Linked DNA regions of Homo sapiens. The protein of the gene in region 3 interacts with the protein of the main gene of each other region in a pairwise test. Each region holds a gene or a part of one and is shown on either strand. Other genes may lie near its edges.

Evidence for each region.
Region 1: the proteins of KRT33B (region 3) and NUP54 interact in binary tests that used the Homo sapiens proteins (3 or more experiments, as listed by UniProt).
Region 2: the proteins of KRT33B (region 3) and RAB26 interact in binary tests that used the Homo sapiens proteins (3 or more experiments, as listed by UniProt).

The regions. Positions count from the first base shown.
Region 1 is NC_000004.12:76,138,382-76,145,413, reverse strand, and holds part of NUP54 (nucleoporin p54), read left to right. Parts: intron 1-940; coding exon 941-1,024; intron 1,025-1,121; coding exon 1,122-1,265; intron 1,266-7,032. UniProt on the Homo sapiens protein: Component of the nuclear pore complex, a complex required for the trafficking across the nuclear membrane.
Region 2 is NC_000016.10:2,143,817-2,151,640, reverse strand, and holds the start of RAB26 (ras-related protein Rab-26), read right to left. Parts: upstream 3,017-7,824; 5' UTR 2,858-3,016; coding exon 2,663-2,857; intron 1,701-2,662; coding exon 1,590-1,700; intron 73-1,589; coding exon 31-72; intron 1-30. UniProt on the Homo sapiens protein: The small GTPases Rab are key regulators of intracellular membrane trafficking, from the formation of transport vesicles to their fusion with membranes.
Region 3 is NC_000017.11:41,362,984-41,366,831, forward strand, and holds the end of KRT33B (keratin, type I cuticular Ha3-II), read right to left. Parts: intron 3,644-3,848; coding exon 3,487-3,643; intron 2,571-3,486; coding exon 2,409-2,570; intron 2,318-2,408; coding exon 2,192-2,317; intron 2,017-2,191; coding exon 1,796-2,016; intron 971-1,795; coding exon 853-970; 3' UTR 515-852; downstream 1-514.

The DNA.
Region 1 (7,032 bases), on a different chromosome or scaffold from region 3:
TGGCATGCTGTTTTCAAAACATTTGAATTCCTTGCAAAAAAAAGTAGTTGAATTAGGGTTTAAAAACCAATAAATTTTTTTTTTTTTTTTTTTTTTGAGACGGAGTCTCACCCTGTCGCCCGGGCTGGAGTACAGTGGCAAGATCTTGGCTCACTGCAAGCTCCACCTCCCGGGTCCACGCCATTCTCCTGCCTCAGCCTCCTGAGTAGCTGGGACTACAGGCGCCCGCCGCCACGCCCGGCTAATTTTTTGTATTTTTAGTAGACACGGGGTTTCACCGTGTTAGCCAGGATGGTCTCGATCTCCTGACCTTGTGATCCACCCCCCTCGGCCTCCCAAAGTGCTGGGATTACAGGCATGAGCCACCGCGCCCAGCCAAAAACCAATAAATTTTACATAGAAAATCCAGATTTCCTGTTTCTCTTGGGGTAAAAAATGGGAATATGTGACACTGCTAAACTACCTTTCTTGTATCTGCTGGAATTTAGGAACTGCTGATCTAAAAAACTATTCATTTTAAACAGTTCCACCTATCAGTAAACACATAGTCTACTTTACTCTTTACTGTTATCAGTCTAAATCTTCTAGGCATATGAATTTGCAACACCTCCTCTAAAAGTACATACATAGTCATTTTAGAATTATGGCAATAGGCTTAATGTGTTTTCTCAGCTGTAACTGTTAACCACCCCTTTAATTGAAGGGTATATATTACATTGTGATATTTCTATTTTAAATGCTTAGTTCATTTCTTGTAACATTTTGACTTCTTGATTGGTAGTATAGTTTTTTAAAAAATTGATCTTGAAAGTAGGGAAAGGAAAAATTAGATCAATATATTTTGATTTTATATGTAGCAATTATAAAATAATTTTAAAAAGAAGTTGCCTTTATATATACAAAAGATTCTTCCTTTCTATTTTTGTTCTTTTTTAATTAGGTGGGTTTGGAGGATTTGGGACAACATCTACAACTGCAGGTTCTGCATTCAGCTTTTCTGCCCCAACTAACACAGGCACTACTGGTAAGAGGCCATCTTAAGTCATTCATAGAAGTAAATGAAGTAGAGGTCAGATTTTTTTTTTTTTTTAACTTACGAAGTTCCAATTTTTCATTCAAAGGACTCTTTGGTGGTACTCAGAACAAAGGTTTTGGATTTGGTACTGGTTTTGGCACAACAACGGGAACTAGTACTGGTTTAGGTACTGGTTTGGGAACTGGACTGGGATTTGGAGGATTTAATACACAGCAGCAGCAGCAAACTAGTAAGTATGAGGTTTTCAGCTTCAAATACAAAACCGTGATGATACTAGCTGACATTATTGAGTGCATTCAGAATACTTTAGTGGACTTTTTATAAGAATTATTAATATATTCCAAAGGATTAGGAATGTTACTTTTCATGTTTAAATATGATAGCAACTGGGGAGAACACTGATTGGCACAGTTAGGATTATAAGGTCCCTGTGTTTAGGATCATTCCATTTAAATTTTTGTTGTTAAAAATAACAAATAGAGAAACTGCACAAAAGTACAGCTTAATGAATTATATATAAGTTTACAAAGGTTAACACCCTTGTAATCACTGCCCATGTCAGGAGATGGTTCCTGGCCAGCCAGTTCAGAAGCCTACCACATTTCCCTACCAATTGCTTCCCCATCAGAGGACCTGCAGTCTTGGCTTTTATGGTGATCATTTTCTTACTTTATATTTTGTCATTCAAGTATGTAAACAGTATTTGGTTTTGCCTGTCTTAAATCTCCATAGGCTCCTCTTTTATCTCTCTTTTTTATTTATTTTTTATTTTTTGAGACGGAGTCTTGCTCTGTCGCCCAGGCTGGAGTGCAGTGGCACGACCTCGGCTCACTGCAACCTCCGCCTCCCAGGTTCAAGCGATACTTCTGCCTCAGCCTCCTGAGTAGCTGGGACTACAGGCGCACACCACCACGCCCAGCTAATTTTTGTATTTTTAGTAGAGACGGAGTTTTACCATATTGGCCAGGCTGGTCTGGAACTCCTGACCTCGTGATCTGCCTGCCTCGGCCTCCCAAAGTGCTGGGATTACAGGTGTGCGCCACCGCGCCTGGCCTCTCTTTTTTATTTTTTAATTTGTTGAAGAAAACAGATCATTTATCCTATAGAGTTTTTTAGTCAAGACTTTTCTGATTGCACGCCTATGGTATAGTTTAACACATTCCTTTGTTCTCTGTATTTCTTGATGATTGGGTTAGATCTGGGGCGTACATATATATATTTTGTTGTTTTGTTGTTTGTTTGCAAGACTATTTTATAGGCCTATTTTTTATCAGAAGACATATAATATCTTTTTTTTTTGAGTGATCAGCCATTGAGCCATTGGTGATCATTACCTAGATCCATTAATTCATTAGGGGTTACAAATAGTGCCATTCCACCTGGATTCATTTATTTGTTGAAATACTTCTGTGAGGAGAAACTTGACTTCATCTGTTTGGTTGATTCTTTCTCTTTATTACTGGTTTTCAGAATAAAGAGTTGGTTATCTAGCATTCTCCAAAGATGACCAATTTTTTTTTAATGTCAGAAACTGCAGCCTTTAAACTAGTTACTATTTTTTAATCCATTGCAGTTACCATTCTTATTGATGCTTAAATTGTTACATCTTTGGCCAGTGCAAGCCTTTTCAAGTTGGCTCCCAAGTCCCTTTGAGACAGTCTGGTTATTAGTCTTTGATGGCTTCCTTACTAACCATCCTTACTAGGTGGTATGGCAGTAGGTTCCAGGGGTTGTTCTGTATGGATTAACTTATTCTCACAAGAACCCTGTGAAATAATACTTTTGTTATCCCCATTTTATGGGTGAAGAGAGGAACCTGAGAGATTGTGACTTACCTGTATACCTCTCTAGAAGAAGTACAGGGATGCAAATTCAACTACTCATTCTAGTGCTCTTTTCACTTTTCCAATCTGATGCCTCTTAAAATTACTTCTGTTTCATTTTTTTAAGTAACTTGATTGACTAGCTAAAATTCATCCTACTCAGTCACTGAAGATTAGTTATTAACTTATTAAACATGAATTTCAAGGATTGCCTAACAGTAGGATGAAGATAATAGAATAGTATTCTCAGAATTATTCTTTCAAGTATTCCAGTCATTCGTCTTTTCTACAATCCTGCAAAAATACAAAATTTGATGAAATATTTAAGTAGTTAAGGAAAGAACAGCAAAAGTGAAGTGTTTCCTTTGTTTCTTGAAATAAAGTCTCTCCAACTATGAGTAACTGTAGTTACATTTGGTTTTTTTAGGAAAATGGGAATTTGAATCTGGTGCTATTTTAAAATTGAAAGGGGCTCATTTTGTTATGTAATATCCATTTATTGTATATATCGTATGTCAGGCATTGGGTGTACAAGGTTGAAGACCACAATCCTTGCTCATAGTCAAGGAGATTCTAGGGTATCCACGCAGAGGAAATAACATGGCATGGTTTATGGCAGAGTATAATGCCTTTGGGACCAGTATAACTAGATCAGTGCAGTTTTTTTAATGCATAAATGACCTCAGGGTCAGTAGTGAGAGTTGGAGAGATAGATATGAATTGGATTATTAGCGTGCCTTATATGTTTTACTAAGGAGCTGTCCTTTAAGCAATTCTAAACTGTTGTAGGATTAAGTAGACAGGAAAATAATCAGATTTTTAGAAGTATCTCTTAGAGAAATACAAAGATAGATTATAGGTGGGTTGGAATGGAGGCAGAGATCTGGTGAAGCTGTTGCCAAAATCTGAGCAAGATATAGTGAAGACCTGAATTAAGGCAGTGACAGTTAAGAATGGAGAGAAAAAACAGGATGTGAATTTGAGAGAGATTTAACTTGTAGAATCAATAAAAGCGAATGACTGGATAAAGGTATCTTGGGCTTCTGGGTGGCGTAACTGAAGGATCCCTTGCTCTTCACTAAGATCCAGAATACTAAAGCAAGAGCAGATGTTTGTGGGTAGATAATGAGTTTGAGGTGTCCCTTGGGTAGTTGTATATATTTATGAAAGCCATCAGAACGTAAGTAGTATTTAAAGTGGTAGATATGGATGATGTAATTTAGGAGACCTGATTCCAGAGTAAGAGGAGAGTACTAGAACAAAACTCTTAGAAACACTAACACTTAAATGCTGCCATCTCCTATCCCCAAGCCAAGTAGGATTTTGACCATAAATTAGCGAGCAGCATTGTTAGGACCACTGCTTGTCCTATCTCAGTATAGAGATGCCCGTCCATGTATTCCTCATACTTATTAGCTCCCTTTTACTAATCACAGCTATTCCTATCTCAGTTGGCAATACCTGTGAATCAAGGGGAAAAGTCACATTTGACTTTGTGACAACCGCCAGAAGTCCTTTCCAAGCCAAAGCATGGATTATCGAGGATCCTTCAGAAGACTGTTGGATCTTTCGACAACTGATACTTTCTGCTCTGTTAGCTCTTTCTGTCTTCACTACTCTAACTAGCTTAGATTCCATGGCCTTCCATTTCTATATCTCTTGCCAATATGCTAAACTTCCTTGTTTTTGTGTCACATTTGCCTGAAAAAACCCCAAGCCTTTGTAAGCCCAACTGTCTGTGTAGATATTGCTTGAGAAAGATCACACATTATGGAAGAGGGGATAATACCTCTCTAAATTCTTGATCACCAACCTCAGGTCTCAATGTTGCCTGGTAATCCTGTGAAATTTCTACTTTCAACTTATTCTCCTGCTTTCTATAGCAGTAATTTTAAACCTTTATTCTCTTCAAATCTCAAATTTATCTGTTCTTACTTTTAGCAGATGGCCTTGACTGCTACTTCCAAGACAAAAAAGGGCTGAGCGCAGTGGCTCACATCTGTAATCCCAGCACTTTGGGAGGCTGAGGTGGGCGGATCACCTGAGGTCAGAGACCAGCCTGGCCAACATGGTGAAACCCATCTCCACTAAAAATACAAAAATTAGATGGGCGTGGTAGTGCACACCTGTAGTCCCAGTTACTCGGGAGGCTGAGACATGAGAATTGCTTGAACCCCATAGGCAGAGGTTGCAGTGAGCTGAGATCGCACCACTGGACTCCAGCCTGGGTGACAGAGCAAGACTCTGTCTCAAAAAAAAAAAAAAAAAACCAAAGAGAAAATAAAATCCCTTATTGCAATTCCTTCAACTTCCCTCCACCAAATCTATTTTTTTTCTCCCTCTATCCACCTTTTCCTCTTTTTACCTGACTCAGGATCTTATAACCTCCTGCCTTTTCAGGGCGCATGTGCTGTTGATTATTCTAGCTGTACTCCGTTCCCCAGTCTTCACCTTCTCATCCACATTTAAGTAACTCAAAGTTTATTTTTTCTTGAAACAGTAATAACAACAACAACAAAACTACTTTAATCCCACATTTCACTTCAGCTACCACTCTCCTCCCCTTTACAAACTATTCGCCAATCTGGTTTCTGTTTTCTTTATTTTATCAAATAAGTTAAGGTCATTAATCATCTCAGTAAATCCAGTGAACACTTACTGTTCTTTATGAAAAATGCTAACAAAGAAAAAAAGAAGTGATGTGAACCCTACCAGCTGGAGTCATCAAAAGTCAGAACTTGTTATTGTCCATCTCCTTTTTCCTTTTTTTAAATCACTGATGTATTTGAGAGCAAATCCCAAGCGTGTCATTTCATGCTTACTTTACTATACTTCTCTCTTTAAAAATGTGTACCTCATTCCAACCCACAATAATTCCTTGGTACTATCTAATACCCCATCTATAACCAGAGTTCCCTATTTGTCTCAAAAGCGTTTTCTTATTTGGTTTGTTTGAATCATGATCCAAACAAGGACCACACATTCATTTTCTTGTCATGTCCCTTAAGTTCTTTTTAGTGTAGAGAATTCCCCATTCTGTTTTTTCCCTCATGAATTTTCCAGTTGTCTTGTTAAATGCCCCCCATTCTGTATTTTTCTTCTGCTTCCTTGTAATATTATTTAACTTTATCTCTCATAATTGTGGTAAATAAAGTTTGCTTTAGGGACTTGACGTTTGCTTTTTTGGTAAGAACATTTTGCAAGTGGTGCTGTGTGCTTCATATCACGTCACGTTGAGAGGCTATCTCACTTTTGGTGATGCTAAGATTGATCAGTAGGTTCAGATGGTGACAGCGTATCTTTATCTTACTACTTTAACCTAATGGTTTCATTCCTTGATGATCATTGCCTCAATCAGTTATCTTATTAGGAGTTGCAAAATGGTGATTTTCTAATTTCCTCCCTATCACACTGAAATTTCTTCTGTAAAAGGAACTTTTTCTTCATCCTCCAAGACTGCTTGATCACCCTGATGTACAGTTTGTATAGTAAAGGCAAGATAATTTTTTTTCTTTTTAATGGACAATTTTTGTAAAAAGGAGTTGGCGGTCTCATTATTTCTAATGGTATCCAAGGAGTTAGGATTTAAAAAAAATTTGATCTTTACTTTATAAAATTACCATTTTGAATGCATGGGCTTTAATAAATATGTTTCAGTTGTTGCATTTGGCCAGTGGGAGACCTTAACTTCTGTGACACTCCAGTCTAGTTTTTTCCTACCTCATTGTTAGTCCTCCTTATTGCTTTTGTCCACTCATCTTCCTCTCTCTGTCTCTACAGAGATGTTACACATACTGTTGGCCTTTACCTCTACCCCATGGCTTAGCTGACTCCTTCCTTTAGGCCCTAACTGAAGTGCTAATGGAACTGTCTTCTCTTGACCCCTCTCTCAGGCTTGATCAGCTCCCTTATTTAGTACTCCCAGAACCTCTGTACTTCTCTGAAGGACTTATCACAATTGTTAATATTTGTTTGATGTGTTCAGTTTGTTTAATGCACCTTGTCTACCTTGTTTACCACTGTATCTTTAGTATTTGGCTCTGAGCACTTAGTAGGTACTCAGTAAATATTTGTTGTATGAATTAATGGTGAATGAATGAATGAATGTGTTTATAAAAAACCAAGAGAGACTGTGTTGTCAGGAAATTTAAGGGAGAAGGGCTTTCAAGGAGG
Region 2 (7,824 bases), on a different chromosome or scaffold from region 3:
CCCCAACTTGTCCTCTGCCAGTCACCTTACCTGCAGCTTCACCTTCACACCATCCACGTCCAGAACTTTGTTCTGAAACAGACAGAACCAGGCAGCTCTGGCATGGGCCCAGCCCAGCCTCTGGTCCCACTAGCTTCACTGCCTTCCTGTCCCCTGAGACCTCCCAGCTCCCAGGTCCAGCCCAGCCCCTGCAGGCTTCCCTTAAGCCAATTTGACCTCACCCACACCTGCAAGTGCAGGCCTCTCCCGGCAGCCTCTGCACTATTCCTGCTTAGAGCCTCTTACGCTGACTTATTTGAACTCATGACCCCACCAGGCCTCTTACTGACACTGCCTCGGTTTCCTCATCTGCAAATGGGTGCAGTAACTAACGAGCTGCAACGCCTCAGCCTTCCCAGTAGCTCTTTTTGCTAATTTGAAAGACTCAGGATGGCTTGAACCCAGAAGTTGGAGGTTGCAGTCCACCATGATCACCACTGCACTCCAGCCAGGGCGACAGAGTGAGACCCTGCTTCAAAAGAATAAAAAATTAAAGCCACTCCTTGCTGGGATTGTCAGGGCTGGGCCTGGGCCTGTCTGACCCAAGGCAGTAACCGCAGATCCCAGAACTGCCTGGCAGCGTCCCCAGCCGGGCCCTCCCAGTTAACGATTAGACGTAAGGCAGGGAGTGGTCTAGCCCCAGTCCCATCTGTTGGGGTGGGGGCGGGGGGCTTCAGCCGCAGTCTGAGGCCCTGGGCAGCTGGAACCTGTGCCACCTCCTTCAGCCTGAGCTCCTGCTGTCAGAGTGCTTCTGGGTCTCCCGGGAACCAGGCAGGGCCATCTGCTGGGCTGGGGAGGACACCGCCTTCCCTGGCACCCTGAACGAGAGTGCGAACCAAATGGCCTCACCTCTTACCACCTGCCCGAGAGCCAAGAGGGAGGTGGGGAAGTGGGGACCAGACAGGACTGGCCTGCCCCCCTCGGGCACTTCAGTCGTCACTCCATCCCAGAGGACTTGAGGGGACTTGGAACCCCCAGACTGGAGGGAGCCCCTTTTCCTGTCCCTGGAACAGCCCTTCCTCCATCCTCCCTCTAACTGGCTCTAATTAAAGGGTGAGAAAAATGCAAATTTAAGATTTGCTGAGGACAAGCCGGCACCTCAGCACGAGGAATTCCAGCTGGTGGGGGTGGGGGTGGGCGCTCCTCACCCAAGAGCAGGGTCCTCTCCCCTAGGCAAGCCCTGGAAACCCTCGCTCAGGCTCTGCAGGGAGCATGTGCTTCTAGGGCCCAGTAAGGCCTCTGTACCGAGGCAGCACTGCTGGCCCCAAGTGGACGTGGCCCTTGACTTCCTCTGACCCACCACCCTGTAGGCAACAGTGTCCGCCTCCCCCAAGGCACAGGATATGGTCCCTCGGTAATGCCAGCCCCTGGCATAGGGCAACTAACTATGCTTGTCGGGTGCAGCCACCAGCCCAGGTGTTGGAAGGTCGAGGCAGGCAGCTTCTGGGGTCCAGGCCTCGAGCCTGTTGGTACCATGGGGATCAGAGAGAACTTGCTGCTCGGGTACCGGCGGGACTCTGATGTGGGGCCAGGCCAGGGCCTCCACTCACCCGGAAGTCAATGCCTACGGTGGAGATGAAGGTCCCCGCCAGGAAAGCACCATCCTTGAATCGCACCAGCAGACAGGTCTTCCCCACACCCGAGTCCCCCACCAGCATGACCTAGGACAAGCAGGAGGGTTGGGGGGAGTCTGGTCTGCCCTGAGCTGGCCTGGTCAGAAGGGGGCTGCAGGTGAGGAGCAGGAGTGGAGGGAGGCAGCCCAGGCCTGCAGGCTCAGCGGGGCCAGGGACCCCGATGGGCTGGACACCCAGCGTATGCCTCTGAAAGGCTGGGGCTGCTCTGTCCTTCTGCACAGTGGCCGTCTCAGTCAGCGGGGAGTGAGGGCAGCCACCTGCATCCCGGACCCTCCCTAACGTCCATACCCCCACACGGTGGACAGCATCTGGGAGGGGAGCAGGTGGGGTGGCAGCTGGGTACCTCCTAAGAGACTTGGGGAGGCCTCTGCCGGGGGCTTCTCCACATCCCAGTAGGGACATGACCCCAGCAAGGCTCGAGGAATTTGCCCCATTAGGATCAGATCTCGATCTGAAGAGGGACCTGGGCCAAGTCTGAGGTTGGGGGGAGGTGCAAGTGGGCAGCAGTCAGGCCTTCTCCCCGAAACCTGTGCTACCAAACCCAAAATGGTCCTCCCAGCCCCCTGCCAAGTCCACACAGCCTCTGCCTTGGTCTGGAGTCCCAGGGTTCCCCATCCATCTGGCAAACCTCTTCCCCCCAGCAAAAAAAAAAAAAAAAAAAAAAGGCCCACAGCCGCTGGGTTGAGGGAGGGCAGCATACGGGAAATGGTGAGACCCCGGGCGGGGGCCAGGGCACTGGGGCGCGGGACCCCTTGTGCCACCATGCCGCCTGGGGGGTGGGGGACAGGCCCTGCCAGCTGTTGGATACCCCAGACCTGGGATGGACAGCTGTGTGTGCACGATGCACCGTGCAAGCCCCACGGGGTTCCTCCCGCGTCGGCTCCGCGCCCTGGGGCCGCGGGCCCTGCACCCCCTGTCCGACCCCCAACCCTTGGCTCAGGCCGGGCGCCACCTGCTGCGCTGGCCTGGGGGGCGGGTGCCTGGCTCACCTTGAAGGCGACGTCGTAGAAGTCGACACCGCCGCCAAGCGAGGGCCGGCCGGGCTGCAAGGGCCCGTTGGGCGGCGCGTCGGGGCCGGAAAGCGCAGTCCCGGAGCGCGCCGGTCGGGCCCCGTTGGCGGTGGGCAGCGTGGAGGCAGCGGGGGTGCTGGCCCCTTTGCTCTTGGGGGTCTTCTTCCTGGACATGGCGGGCGGGCGCTCAGTGTGCTCCCGCTGCAGCCGCCGTGCCCTGGGCCGTCCCGCACCCCGCGCCCGCCGAGCCCGACCCGGACCCGAACCCTTCCCCTGGCGGCGGCGGCGGCGGCGGCGGCGGCGGCGGCATCATCCCGGGCGCCCGGCTCGCGCCCCGCCCCCGCCGCTCCACGGGCGCGCAGCCACTCAGGCCCGGCCTCCCGCCGCCGCCGCCAATGCCGTGCGTGGGGCGGGGACATGCAAATACACCCCCGCTCGGCGGGGGGTGGGGGGCGGTCAGGAGGTCCGGGCCCCGTCCCGCCCCCGATCACGACCCCTGCCCGTGGCTGCCTTGGGGCCAGGAGCCAGCTGTGGGGTGACAGGCCTGGGCCAGGAGTCACCCCGGGATCCTGAATCCCCTCTGCTGGCTGCACACCACCCCAGCTCGGTGACCCCCAAACTGGACCGCCAGACCTGGGAGGAAGGGGTGTCCTGAGATGTGGGTGCTGGGGCAGAGGGCCCGCATGGACGGGCACCGCGGGCTTCTGTCTCCTTAGCCCCAGATGCCTAGCGCTTGGCCCGGTGCCCTTCACTGCTCCATCCCCTCCAGGGTAGGCGGGTCCAGGAAGCTCCAGCCCTGGCTTGGCAAACACACCAGGCTGCTGGGGCAGGCGCCCTGGGCTCAGGTGACAGCTGGTCACCGGGAGGACACAGCGGGCGCTGCGATCTCCCCCACAGCTTCTGCCTGCTGTGCACGCCTGGGGATCTGCGGGAAGGAGGAAGTCGCTGTGGCAGCCAGCCCCCGGCCCCCTGAGGGTCCCCTCCCACGGGACTCTGCCCTCAGGGTCTGAAAGGTGGAAAGCAGAGGCCCCTGCCCAGGCTGTGTGGCTGGCCCCTTGTCCTTCTCCTCCAGGTTCGGACCTTCAGGTGGCCAGGGCCGATTCTCCAAATCCTAAGCTGGTCCCTGGCAGACCCACCTCCCCAACCTGGGCTGCACTGGAGCTCTGTCACCCCCTCTCACAGAGAAGATGGGACTGCAGTGGTCAGAGCTGGGGCACAGTGGTCCAGAGGGGTGGTGTCCTTGGCATGCAGGGGCTTCTTGGTGTTTCTTTGGGAGCTGGAGAGATGACCCAGCTGTCCCCGGAGACCTGACAGCTGTCACCAGGACCTTGGGCCCTTCAGAGACCTGAGCCCTCCCAGCTGGCAGTGCCCAGAGTCCAAACAATTGGCTGCCTCTCGGGTCAGAGGCCTGAGAAAACACAGATGGGGGGCACTGCCCAGCAGAGTGATTCCTCGAGAGGGCCTGGCAGAGGCCGTGGAAGCCTGCCCTACAGCAAGCACTGTTGTGTGCCAGGCACACGACCTCTTCAAAGTTATCCTGCAAGGTGGGTACTGCCCTCAGTGTCCAGATGGGGAAACCGAGGCCCAGAAAGGCAAGGAGCCTGTGCAAGGTCAGCAGGCTAGGAAGGGCAGAGCTAGGATTTGTTCCTGTGATCTCCAGCTCCAGAGAACATAAACCGTCCCATGGCAGAAATCCCTGTAGACTTAATCCCCAGGAACCTGGCAGAGCTGGGGGTCAAACCCGGAAGCCCTCTCAGAACCCTTCCTTGTCTCACTCCTCTGGCCCCCCAGCTCTTCCAGACCAACCCCCAGTGTGTGTGCACTGGGCCTGGGTAGAGGCATTTAGCTTCTGCAGCTGCAGCCCTGGGGACTCCAGGTGTCCACCCGCGCTACAAGGCCTCTTTCAGGATGGCTGGCCCAGGGTCTGAGCTGGGGGCCTCAGCAGCTGCTGTGCACTGGCCCCAGGGTCCTGGGCAGTGGACTCCCAGTCCAGTGGACCCCGTCCTGCCAGCTGCTGCTCAGGTACCCCCAGGGCGCGGGCAGCAGGAGGAGTTGGGTGCAAGTAGGGCATCCTGCAGGGGGAGGAGTGCGGATGGGGCCCCCAGGAAGAGAAGGAGGCAGGCGCGCTGGAGAAAGTGGGAGGCCAGGCGGGGAGGGGAGCCTTGAGAGAGCAGAGGAAACGGGCTTGCGCTGGCAACCTTTAAAATTAGGAGAGTTTACATAAAAATCCAAGTCTCTGGTTTCTCTTGAAAATGGGGAGCTCTGGGTGCCTGCATCACAGACCCCTCTCTTGGCTTCCAGCAGGCCTCGGAATCTTTGATCATTATGTCTCTTGGTTGCTGTGTTTGCCATCTGTTTCACCCTCTGGAGTGTAAGCTCTCCGGGCACAGGAAGCAGCTTGTCTTGGTCAACTGCTGTCCCCAGCAGCCAGCTCTGGGCCTCCATAAGCAGTTATTAAATTGGTGAAAGAGGTGTGGTGGCTCACGCCTGTAATCCCAGCACTTTGGGAGGCTGAGCAGGCAGATCACTTGAGGCCAGGAGTTTGAGACCAGCCTGGCCAACATGGTGAAACCCCGTCTCTACTAAAAATACAAAAATTAGCTGGGCCTGGTGGCATACGCCTGTAATCCCAGCTACTCGGGAGGCTGAGGCAGGAGAATCGCTTGACCCCAGGAGGAGGAGGTTGCAGTGAGCTGAGATTGTGCTGTTGCATTCCAGCCTGGGTGACAGAGCGAGACTCTGGGGAAAAAAAAAAGAAAGAAAAGAAAAGAGAAAGAAATGTGACTTAGAAACACAGGCCTCACTTCAGGAGGACATGTCCTTGCTAACAAAGATTTAAGGCAAGTGTGATCAGTAGTGAGGGCAAGGCTTCTGGGGGAGGGAGGGTTTGCACTGGGCTTTGAGGATTGAGCTAGAGTCCGACACGAGAGAGAAAGACAGTCCCCAGGTGGAGGGAGTCAATATGCATAGGCTGAGAGTGCTAGGAGATGGGCACTTTGTGCCGAGGTGGCCAAAGTGTGGCCCAGTTCCTTGGAGGAAACGGGAGGTAATCAAGCTGGTAAGGTAGGATGGGGTCAGCTGGGAAGGGAAACCTGAGTGTTATTCCTAGGAGCTTGGAAATTGTACAGCGGGAAGTAGAGAGCTGTGCGTGGCTTTTGAGCAGAACAACAGAGGACGCTGTGCTACAGGAATATTGGGGACTGGCAGGAGGGGATGGATGGTGGAGCCTGTAGGCCTGGAGATGAGATTGATGGGGGTTGCAGTCACCCAGGGGAGGGATAATAGGAACAGAGAGGACCTTCAGGAAAGAAGCTGTAGGCCTGGAGGCAGGGAGGGGAGGGTCAGAGTCCATGCCCATGGGCAGAGACCAGTGGGATGCTGCAGTGGGTTAAAGATGGATTAAACCCCAGCACTTTGGGAGGCCGGGGCGGGCGGATCACCTGAGATCGGGAGTTCGAGACCAGCCTGGCCAACATGGAGAAACCCCGTCTCTACTAAAAATACAAAATTAGCCAGGTGTGGTGGCGGGCGCCTGTAGTCCCAGCTACTCAGGAGGCTGAGGCAGGAGAATCGCTTGAACCCAGGAGGCGGAGGTTGTGGTGAGCCGAGATCGCGCCATCGTACTCCAGCCTGGGCGACAAGAGCGAAACTTGGTCTCCACAAAAAAAAAAAAAAAAAAGGCCGGGCGCGGTGGCTCACGCCTGTAATCCCAGCAGCACTTTGGGAGGCCGAGGCAGGCAGACCACGAGGTCAGGAGATCAAGACCATCCTGGCTAACACAGTGAAACCCTGTCTCTACTAAAAATACAAAAAATTAGCCGGGTGTGGTGGCGGGCGCCTGTAGTCCCAGCTACTCGGGAGGCTGCGGCAGCAGAATGGCGTGAACCCGGGAGGTGGAACTTGCAGTGAGCGGAGATCGCACCACCACACTCCAGCCTGGGCGACGGAACAAGACTCCATCTCAAAAAACAACAACAACAACAACAAATAAAACTAGAAAAACTAGAACAGGCAGCCAGCGAGGGCAAGGCGGGGGCCGGCGAGGGCAAGGCGGGGGCCGGCGAGGGCAAGGCGGGGGCCGGCATGGTGGGAAAGTTCAGCAGGGAGGCCTTGGGATGTCCGGATTCTTGGCATCTTCAGACCTGGAGAAGAGAGGAGTCCTGTGGGCCAGGGCAGGTCCCTGAGACAGGGTCCGAGTTTGAGATGGGCCCTGGGAGCTGGGGGCGGAGAGTGAGGTCCGTGTTCCCCTGGGAGGGGTGCTACAGCCCCCCACCCTTCTGGTGCAGAGCTGGCTCTTCCAGGGAGGGGAAGGTCTCCACGGGTTCCTGTCCTCGAGCGGAGAGAGCGCCCTGGGTCTCCTTGGGGCCTTGCTCTGGGACTTTCGCTCCTGTTACCTTCTGACGGCCCGGCCCCCTGGCATCCTTACACCGTGCCCTCTAACTCCTGCCAGTTCCTTCTGACCGTCCTGGGTGTCTGGAAGGATGTGTGCTGTGAGCCCCCAGCCAAAACGACCCCTGGGAGCCATGGATCAGGACAGTCTCTTTCTGGCCCCCATTTTCCAGCCTCTTCCCTACACTCTGCCCCCAGAGTGGGGCCCTCGGGCTGGCCCTTGTGTGCCAGGAGAGGGGGCGCAGGCACGAGTGAGGCCTCCTCAGGCTTCCAGACTCTGCCTGGAGCCCCACCCTCAAGGGAGCCTGCCCTGGCTCCTCCTGCCCCACTTCTGGCTCCCTGGATGCTCTCCAGCCCTTCCCCAGCGGCTGCATGGCCGCTGTAGCAGCCTGGGAGCCTCCTGAGGACAGGGCCCTGTCCTGCCTACTCCTGTTCCCGCCAGGCACTCGAGCGAGAGCTCTGTGGCTGAGCAGCAGAGAGCTGGGTTGGACTTCAAGGGGCTCTTAGCAAGCCAGGGAGTGGCAAAGCCGCCACGGCCTGTGCCCCCAGGGCACCTCCCAAGACCCTCCTCTGGAGCTCAGCGGTCTGTGCCCTCCGCGGGGTCCCCGGCTTGCTATGTGCCCCTGGGCACGTGGCATTCCCTGTCTGGGCCTGCTCCCCTCTCCATGAAATGAGGGGGCAGGAGGAGCCGATCTCTGAGGTCCCTTCCAGCTCAAACACCTTATGTTCTATGAAATCCGTGTGAACGTTGC
Region 3 (3,848 bases):
GGAGGATGTATAAGCTCTGGGTGCTTGTTTGAAATCAATTTTGTCCTCTCATAATCACACCTCATGTGTAACTGACAAGCAGAGAGTGAACTCTGGGTTCAGTCCTGCCATTGATTCTTCCTCACTGTGAGGAAGAGAAAAAATTAGTAGCACAATTCCTGGCATTTGGTAGGTGTTCAATAAATATTAACTTCTGTCATCCCTGCTAGGGACTTAAAAGAATGAGTGGAACTGTCTAGAGATGCTCACCGTTGCATTTTACTGAGTAAGGTCCCATGAGAAATATGTTTATCATATTCAGACGAGGCCTCTTGTCCTAGTGATCCTACTTGTTTTATGCTGGCCTAAGTGGATGCTGGGACTCACTGTGCTTAATGAATGTTAATGAAGGTGATGAAGACCTTTTAGGAGATGATTAACCTATAAAGTCCTCCTTCTGCTTTCAAGTGGCTTTATAAGAAGCACACAGAGAGTCAACACTTTGAAAAGAATGAATACAAATGAGAATCATGTCTGCTTTGCAAGAGGAAAGTTTATTAGGCGATTTGGGGAACTGCAATAAAGGTAGAAGCAGCAGAGAGAACAAAACACCTCGTATGCCACTGTCACAGCTCCAACCTCTGACCATCAGAACTCAGACTGACTACAGGAGAGGGACCTGGGGTGAGGAGGATCAAGTAGCCCTAGGCTCAGAGTCAGACCCAAACGCTGGGCATTTGTTCTCCTTCCAGACCATGATTTGTGGTGATGCCTCGGGGTGGGGTCCGGTGGCTGATGGTTGTCAGAGAGGCAGAACTGGCCCACCGATGGTAGTTCTGTCTTCATGCTATACTTCTGCTGGCCCCAGGGTATCTAGTACCCAAAGGTGTTGCAAGGCCCACAGCGGGAACGAGGACCACAAGGATTGGTGACACAGGATCCAATGGGCTTTTCACATGCATTGGTGGTGGCGCAGGGGTTGGAGGGCAGCCTGGGATGCAGAAGCATTAGACTGTCAGCATGAGAAGGGTGATTCAAACAAGGGAGACTCAATCCAAAGAGACACAGAAACAAGCAGAACCCGTTCTCTGATGTCCTAGGAAGCCATGCCTTGTTTGGATCACTCCTTCTACAGAGTTCTGATACAGTGGCAGAAATGAGCAAAGAACATGTAAGGTGGAATCCCAGCCTTCCTTGTATGACCCTAGACACACAAGAAAGTCACTTCCTCCTTCTAAGCCTCAGCTTTCCCACCTGTAAGGTAGGACTGGTAGTACCAACCACACAGGATTATGAAAATTCCACAAGACTGTGTTCATAAAAATATTATGTTCGCTGGCAACTGCTGTACTGTTAGTTATTGATCATCAACCCTATTGACACTCAAATGCTCATCTATAAGAAGGTGATAATGATTCCCACTCTGCCTGCCTCAGATGATTCTAACAAGAATTAATGAAACGGTGGATTTGAAAGTTCTGTTTAAATCAGAAAAAGTGATCATTGTTACAGTTTCATTTTCCTTTTTGTGGTGACAAGACAGTCCTGAAGACAGAAAGATTTATTTGGCCATCAACATCCAAAAAATCTCTACTGGAGGAAGGAGTCAAGTCCCATGACTATCTTTTGTAAAAGAAAGTATCTTTAGCCCAGATAATGTTAGCAACAAATATCCTACACTTCCCACGGCTGTAATATAAAACTCTCGCCTCTACAGACAGATTGGCATCTGAAACTTGATTTTCAAAGTCTCTGTTTTATCCTACAGTAGAACAGTGCCTGTCCCTTGCAGGGGTGCCGTCCGCCAGGTACTCACTTGCAGTCCTCGCTCTCCAGCAGGCTCCGGTATGTGTTGATCTCACACTCCAGCCGCGCCCGCACGTCCAGCAGCACCTGATACTCCTGGTTCTGCCGCTCCAGGTCACTGCGGATCTCCGCCAGCTGGGACTCCACGTTGGTGATCAGGCTCTGCACCTGGGACAGCTGGGAGCTGTAGCGGGCCTCGCTCTCTGTCAGCGTGTTTTCCAGAGAGTATCGCTGTGGTGGGAAAGATCAGGAATGTCAGAGAGCTGCTCCTTATAGGGTTCCTCCATGGGGTTCGAAAAAACTCACAAGCTCCAAGAGCTAAGAAGAGTGTGTGGCCCCAAGGGCATCCCCAAGACTCTGCCTCCCAAGTTCCCATCGCTCACCAGCAGGTCTGAACAATACACACCAGGTTGTGCTGGGCCTGCAGCTCGATCTCCAGGGCATTGACTGTGCGTCTCAGCTCGATGATCTCCGCCTGGTAGGACTGCAGCTGCTCCGAGCTGGATACCACCTGCTTGTTCAGCTCCTCGGTCTGAAACACCCAAGGGGAGAAAGGATCAGACCCTGCCTCCGGGGCCCTGGGGGGCCTCGGGTCCTGAGTGGCCACGTGCTTAGATGCCCACCTGCGTGGCGAACCATTGCTCCACTTCCCTGCGGTTGGTTTCCACCAGGGCCTCATACTGATTCCTGGTCTCGTTCAGGACCTGGTTCAGGTCCACAGCGGGAGCAGCGTCCACCTCCACGTTGAGGCGGTCTCCAAGCTGGCAGCGCAAGGTGTTGACTTCCTAATGGAGAAAAGGGAAGAAATAAACCCACAGAAAGAAGTCTTTCAATAACTTCTTTGAGGCAGTTCAATATAATGGGAAGAGGATTGCATTGCAGCTTAGGAAACATGAGTTGAAGCCCAGCTGTCACCTCTGGAAATTCTGGCCTCTTCTCTGAATCCCTTCCCTCATCTGTATGATACGGCTGCTTCATTAAATGATTGCTAATATTTCTACCCAGTCCAAGATTCTATCATTTCTTTCTTATTTCCCCTTTGCTCAGTGATAAGCCTGGCATGATAATTGGCTTACAATTGTTGCTACTTAAATATAGAGAAACCAGGTTTCATTCCTCCTATTTATTTCATGGGATACTACTAGAGTATGACACATGTTTTCATCATGAAAACGTCTAATGTTTGAGACATGCATCTGATTTCGTAGTATTGCATTCAGCCATGAGATCTGAATCAACCATTATTTGAGTTATTTCATTTCTCCCGTTTTTCCCATCCATCAGTTCATCCATCCATCCATTCATCCATCTATCCATTTATCTAGCTTGAGTTCTAGTTATCTAGGTGAAACAGAGTGTAAGAATGTTTTCTATCTCCTTCCAGTCTTGGTCATTAACCTACCTGGCACCTCTTCAGAAGCTAATAGATAGCATCAAACAGTAGACAGTAGTTTAAAGATATTTGTGTGACCTTTCAGCCATACATGTCTGGTCCCAAGGGGAAGTAGGTCAGCTTACCACACTCCTTTATGTAAAAAAGGTAAGCTGTCACTCATTCCCCAACAAGCCCCAAAGTATGTTTTGAGCAACCAGCAAAATGTTGTTAGGCCTAGGGTGCTTAGCAAATCAAATCCTACCTTATCCTATTCAGGGGGATCACAGAGCTCTCAGTATTGGGATATTGGGGGCTGGGACTCTTACCTGCTCATGGTTCTGCTTGAGGGACAGCAGCTCCTCCTTCAGGGACTCCATCTGGGCCTCCAGGTCAGACCTGCACAGGGTCAGCTCATCCAGAATCCTGCGCAGGCTGTTGATGTCGGACTCCACCAGCTGCCGCAGGGACTGCTCCGTCTGGTACCTGCACACACAGCCAGAGGTCAAAAGAGGTCCAAAAAAAAAAAGTCTTTGTTTCCCGGCCTTTACTTGGCTGACTTAGTCAATTTTATTATATTTTGAAATATTTTGAATTTAAAAAATTAAGGGAGAAAATACTCCTGTACTGAGTGAGAAGGCCTATTTTGTCACTGAGACACACAGAAAAGGTATTGGTGGAATGCCTGTGG